Regions from separate parts of the Homo sapiens genome. Here region 1 is linked to region 2. The links come from fine-mapping of genetic effects on gene expression. A gene starts in region 2. The other region holds a variant in brackets. All regions are shown on one strand. Distances are between the middles of the regions. Region 1 overlaps TALDO1 (transaldolase 1). Region 2 holds the start of PIDD1 (p53-induced death domain protein 1).

The links. PIP is the estimated chance that this variant, and not a neighbour inherited with it, causes the effect.
Region 1: its variant is the best candidate, but not a certain one, in a credible set for the expression of PIDD1 in fibroblasts (GTEx, PIP 0.66).

Annotation. Positions count from the first base shown.
Region 1 is chr11:763,984-766,880 of GRCh38, reverse strand. It overlaps TALDO1 (transaldolase 1), which reads right to left. Exons shown (of 8, transcript NM_006755.2): 7 at 2,448-2,593; 8 at 1,869-2,068. The coding sequence ends at 2,036. Among named protein-coding and RNA genes, the nearest start is that of GATD1, 12 kb to the left of the region's middle. RefSeq lists a silencer at 1,129-1,542. The variant GT/T (reference allele first, on the strand shown) is at 1,743.
Region 2 is chr11:803,925-806,821 of GRCh38, reverse strand. PIDD1 (p53-induced death domain protein 1) reads left to right here and starts at 1,591. Exons shown (of 16, transcript NM_145886.4): 1 at 1,591-1,643; 2 at 2,359-2,728. The coding sequence starts at 2,434. RefSeq lists a silencer at 1,243-1,962 and enhancers at 2,323-2,462, 2,543-2,612, 1,964-2,661.

The DNA.
Region 1 (2,897 bases), 40 kb after region 2:
GGAGGGACACACCCCCGTGCCTGGCTAGGAGGGAAGTTCTTTTACGTTCTATGATGTGGGCGGACCTGGACAGAATGCTGAGTGAGTGAAAGAAGACTGTCTCAAAAGGCCTTTACCCTGTGATACCATTTTTGTGAAATATCCAGAAAATGTAAGTCAGACAGAAAATAGATTGTTTGAGGCTGGGAACAAATAGGTATGAGATTTCATTTTGGGGTGATGGTTTCACAGTTCTAAGATGACTGAATCATAGGGGCAAGTGGGTGAACTTGATGTTTGCAAACGACACTCACAAACTTAGTCACATCCCCAGAGCCCCATTCTGCTGGGCCTCCTTGGAGATAGTGGTGCTGTTAATAATTGGGAGCCACAAGACCTTTGATGTCCTCTTAGGACTTAGCTTGTTGACCGGCTCGGAGGCAGAGGCCTGGCCTCCTGTGGGAAGCCTTGAAGGGTGGGAGGGACTCCTCAGCAGTGGGGGTTGGTGTGGGGAGGGCTCTGCCCACTCAGCTCTCCACCCCAGGAGGAGCCCTGCACTGGTCTTGATCAAGGGCACTGGCAGCCCAGCTGCCTCCCTGGCCTGCTGCTCTGCCCGAGTTGTCCCCTCTTGCACCCTGGATGGGCGGGCATGCCCAACCCAGACTGGAGTTGAGGGGCAGTGGCCAGATGGCTGGTGTAAGGTAGGGTAGCTTGTTTTAGGTTCAGGGTGAGAAGCTGCAGCTCCATCCTACAGCCCAGTGCTGTAGGATCCGTAAAGGTGGCCGGGTGCAGTGGCTCAGGCCTGTAATCCCTGCACTTTAGGAGGCCGCAGAAGGAGGATCGCATGAGCCTAGGAGTTCGAGACCAGCCTAGGCAGTGTGGTGAGACCCCCCATCTCTACAAAAAATAGAAAATTAGCCATGCATGGTGGTGCGCGCCTGTAGTCTCAACTACAGGCGGGAGGATCACTTGAGCCTGGGAGGTGGAGGCTACAGTGAGCCAAGATTGCATCACTGCACTCCAGCCTGGGCAACAGAGTGAGGCCGTGTATTGAAAAACAGGGAGAGGCCGGGCATGGTGGCTCACACCTGTAATCCCAACACTTTGGGAGGCCGGGGTGGGTGGATCACAAGGTCAGGAGTTCAAGACCAGCTTGGCTGAAATGGTGAAACCCTGTCTCTACTAAAATACAAAAAATTAGCCGGGCATGATGGCAGGCGCCTGTAATCCCAGCTACTTGTGGGGGCTGAGGTAAAGAGAATCGCTTGAAACTGGGAGGCGGAGGTTGCAGGGAGCCGAGATCGCACCACTGCCCGGGGCGCACTCCAGCCTGGGCGACAGAGTGAGATTCCGTCTCAAACAACAAAAAAAATGGGGGTGGCGACTTCAAGGCCAGTGGCTGGTGCATGTCGTGCTGCCCCCACAAGGTGGCACCATGACCCCATGCAGGAACCTGGCATCCCATGTAAGGTCTCAGCCACAACAGGACAGGAGGGGGGCGGGGGGCATGGGCAGGGCAGCCTTGACAGGGAACAGGAGGCCCAGGCCCTCAAGAGCAGGAGGGAGGGTCCGGCTGGGACTGCTCCTCTGAGAGGCATCCACATCTGCCCACGCTTGGAGGCTTGAGACTGTTCATCTGTGACCCACCTGGGACAGCACCTTGGGAGCCCCTGGCATCAGAAGCCTGCCCTTTGCCTAACTCCACCAATGGCCTCCCAGCAACAACCCTGACCTGGGTTCCCAGGTGGTGGCCCAGGCGGTGG[GT/T]TGTGTCTGGGGTACCCTGACCCCGACCCCATCTCTGAGTCCTAACCTAGGTTACAGCCCATCACAGCTGGGGCAGGTGATGCTTAGGGGACAAAGGGGACGGAGACAGTGAATGAAACAGCACAGGAAAAGTGACTGCTTTAATGTATTAGGCAAAATTTTACATAAAATCAGAAATCTATGATCTGTCCCTGCTCCAATTTGTAAAAAACGCAAGATTCATCAGAAGCCACGTGCAGTCAGATCCCAGCTGGCCGGCGGTGCAGATCTGGAGTCCAGCCTCAGGGATGCGCTACTTTCCATTCTCTGCATTGAACATTCGTTCCTAGAAACAAACAGAGCACGAGCTGTGTCTCCCCACCCTACCTTCTGCACCTTGAAGCCTCACAAGGCACCATGTGGAAGGAGGGAGGCCCTTGTGGGGTCTGCACTCTGTGTGGGGGCCACGGCCACAGGGTGGCCAATACCACAGTCACCACACAGGCCAGAGAGGAGCCAGGACCCACCAAGCATCCTGGGGGCACCCCTGGGTGCCATGCACCCTCCACCCTGGGATGGCCTCAACAGGCCCCACTTGCTGGACAGCACGTGAATGAGACCTGGGGTCTCACCAAAGTTTTAACTCTGCCCAGCTTGAACCCCGACGCCCAGGCCCGGGCTCTCATAGGGCTTGGCATATGTAGGTACCCACACACAACACTCACTGTCAGCATCCGCTCCAGCTTCACTGCATCAGCGGCAAACTTGCGGATCCCGTCAGAGAGCTTCTCCACAGCCATCTGGTCCTCGTTGTGCAACCAACGGAAAGACTTCTCATCCAGGTGGATTTTTTCCAGGTCACTGGCTTGGGCTGGGGGACAAGAACCAGCCTTCCATGCCTGCTCCATGTCCCTGCCCACCTTGGCCCCTTGGGCTCAGGGCCTGAACTGCTGCACCCAAGCATCTCCCACCAGGGCCAGGCCTTGGCCCCAGCAAGGCTCACGCTGGAAGTGGGGTTCAGCCCACAGAGCCTTGGCTGATGACTTGAGTGAGATGTGTTAGGAAAGCCAAGCCCTCCGTTGAGGTCTACTTCACCCTCATGTCTCCCAAGATGAGCTCGCCCCACAGGTGGGAGGGATCACCCACAGGGCAGCGTGGCACGGCAGTGCTGGCCT
Region 2 (2,897 bases):
CACGAGGTCAGGAGTTCGAGAACATCCTAGGTAACACGGTGAAACCCCGTCTCTACTAAAAATACAAAAAAATTAGCCGGGCGTGGTGGTGGGCGCCTGTAGTCCCAGCTACTCAGGAGGCTGAGGCAGGAGAACGGTGTGAACCCTGGAGGTGGAGCTTGCAGTGAGCCGAGATCACGCCACTGCACTCCAGCCTCTGGGACACAGCCAGACTCCATCTCAAAGAAAAAAAAAAAAAAGATCCCTCCAGGCCCTACATGGAAGGGGCTGGGGTGAATGGAAGCAGGGAGGCCTGGAAGAGACCTGCCTGTCCCAGAGGGAGGGATGGTGGTAGCTGGGAAATGGAAGGAAGAAGGAGCCGCCGATATGACCTCAGGAAAGAAGCAGGCATAGCTGGTGGTGTCTGTTCCCTCCCTAAACACCTGCTCTCCTGGGCGAGGAAGCTGGTGAATAAAGCACAGGCCCGCTCGGGGGTATCATGTTGGTGGGGAAGGAGGAGCCGCTGATATGACCTCAGGAAAGAAGCAGGCATAGCTGGTGGTGTCTGTTCCCTCCCTAAGTACCTGTTCTCCTGGGCGAGGAAGCTGGTGAATAAAGCACAGGCCCGCTCGGGGGTATCATGTTGGTGGGGAAGGCGGACAGGGCAGATTTCAGGTTCTTGGCTTTGACCCTCACCAGCTACAGGGCCTCGGGCAATATCTGATTTTTTTTTTTTTTTTTTTTCAGACGGAGTCTTGCTCTGTCTCCCAGGCTGGAGTGCAGTGGCACCATCTCGGCTCACTACAACCTCCGCCTCCCGGGTTCACGCCATTCTTCTGCCTCAGCCTCCTGAGTAGCTGGGACTACAGGCGCGCATCACCACGCCCGGCTAATTTTTGTATTTTTAGTAGAGACGGGGTTTCACCATGTTGGCCAGGCTGGTCTCAAACTCCTGACCTCGTGATCCACCCGCCTCGGCCTCCCAAAGTGCTGGGATTACAGGCGTCAGCCACCGCGCCCGCTCAATATTTTATCTCTTAACGCCTCCTTCTCCCCTGCGCGATTGAAGGAGACAGTGCCAGGAGGCTCACTGCTTCTGGCCCAGAGTGATGGCTCGAAAGGAAGGGTCTTTGCAGGCCCAGAGAGGAGGTCCTGGCAGGCTTCCCGGAGGAGGCCGTTTGGGCTGGTTTGGAAAGGACACTGCAATTGTTCCGGCTTGTAGCAGGGGTGGGTGCGGGGCAGCGGCAAGAGTACCCCCGTCACCCCGGCCTGGGAACGCACCTGGGGCCGGGTCTGCCTCGGAGCGGCCCGGGGCCCCGAGAACCTCGGAAAGGGCGGGTTTCGTGGCCTTCCGGGCGGGGGAGGCTGTACGGCTCCGACCCCGCGGACTAACAGGAAGCCGAGCGCTGCTGCGCGGGCGGCTCGGCAGATGGACGGGTCGCGTCCGCGTCTCCGGGGCTGCGACAGGCGGAGGGAAGGCGGGTCGGGGAGGAGCCGGGAGACCTCCCCCGTGGACCCCAGCCCGGCGGAGGGGGCGCGTCCCGAGGGGGCGGGGCCCAAGGGGCGGGGTCTGCAGTCCCCGCCCACCCAGAAACGCGCCGGCGGGATCCCAGGCGCCGAGCGCCCGCTGAGCAGCCACCCTTTGCGCGCCGCCTGCAGCGCAGGTACGCGCCGGCCTGGGCGGGCGGAGGGGGCGGCGGGGACACGTTTGCTTTTGGGAGGCTGGGGGCCGTTCCCATCCCCGACGCCCGGGGGATCCCGAGCCTGCCTCGGGGCTGGGGCCCGCCCCCCACGCCGTCTGAGCGGTGCGCGGTGCACCACCCTCCCCAGTGGACCGAACTGGAAAGGCCGGGAGAGGTTTCCTCCGGGGCTCACGAATTGGGGTCCCGGCCCCAGGACCCCGAAGCTGCCCAATGGCTCACGCCCCAGGCCCTCACCCTTACACGGCCTTCCCTGACTTTCGGGGCGCAGTCACCCCCGCGGTAGGGGAGGGTCACGGCCTTCCTGGTAAAACGGATGTAAATAGAAGGGGGACTCATCTCCAGGACTGGGGAACAGCCCCTATGACCTCGCAGCTCCACGGCTCCATTGGCCAGATTTCCAGGACCAGGACTGAAGCCTCACTACCCCGGCTTTGCTGCTCATAGCGAGGTCTCCCTGCCCGGTGCTCCTGCGAGCCATGGCGGTCCCATTCCCCAACCCTCTTTCCAGTGGTGACCCAGGCCTCCGGGGTTCAGGGTGACCACAAGGTCTCCCCCACTCTGCAGCCCAGGCCCAGATGGCCTGGCTCTAGAGCTCCCCACTCCATCCAGAGTCCCTGTTTCCCCAAAGAGAAGGGCCCACCCCGGCTCCCGCTCACTCCTCCTCCTGCCTCTGCAGCTTCCCCGGGCGCTGCCTGGACAGGCCTGCCTGCGTGCTGGGACATGTCTGGCCTCCAAGGACCGTCGGTGGGCGATGGCTGCAACGGTGGAGGGGCCAGAGCTGGAGGCAGCTGCTGCCGCAGGAGATGCTTCAGAGGATTCGGACGCAGGGTCCAGGGCGCTGCCTTTCCTGGGCGGCAACCGGCTGAGCTTGGACCTGTACCCCGGGGGCTGCCAGCAGCTGCTGCACCTGTGTGTCCAGCAGCCTCTGCAGCTGCTGCAGGTGGAATTCTTGCGTCTGAGCACTCACGAGGACCCTCAGCTGCTGGAGGCCACCCTGGCCCAGCTGCCTCAGAGCCTGTCCTGCCTCCGCTCCCTGGTCCTCAAAGGTGAGTTCCACCTGTTCTGGGCCCTGTCTCCATCTCTCGCTCTGCCCTGCCTCTGCTGCATGTTCTCAAAGGCAAACCCCAGTCCCAGCCCCAGCTCCAGGCCGCCCCTCCCGGCTCCCCAGGTGTGAACTGTTCTGCTCTTGGTCCTGTCCAGCCCCATCGCCATCCT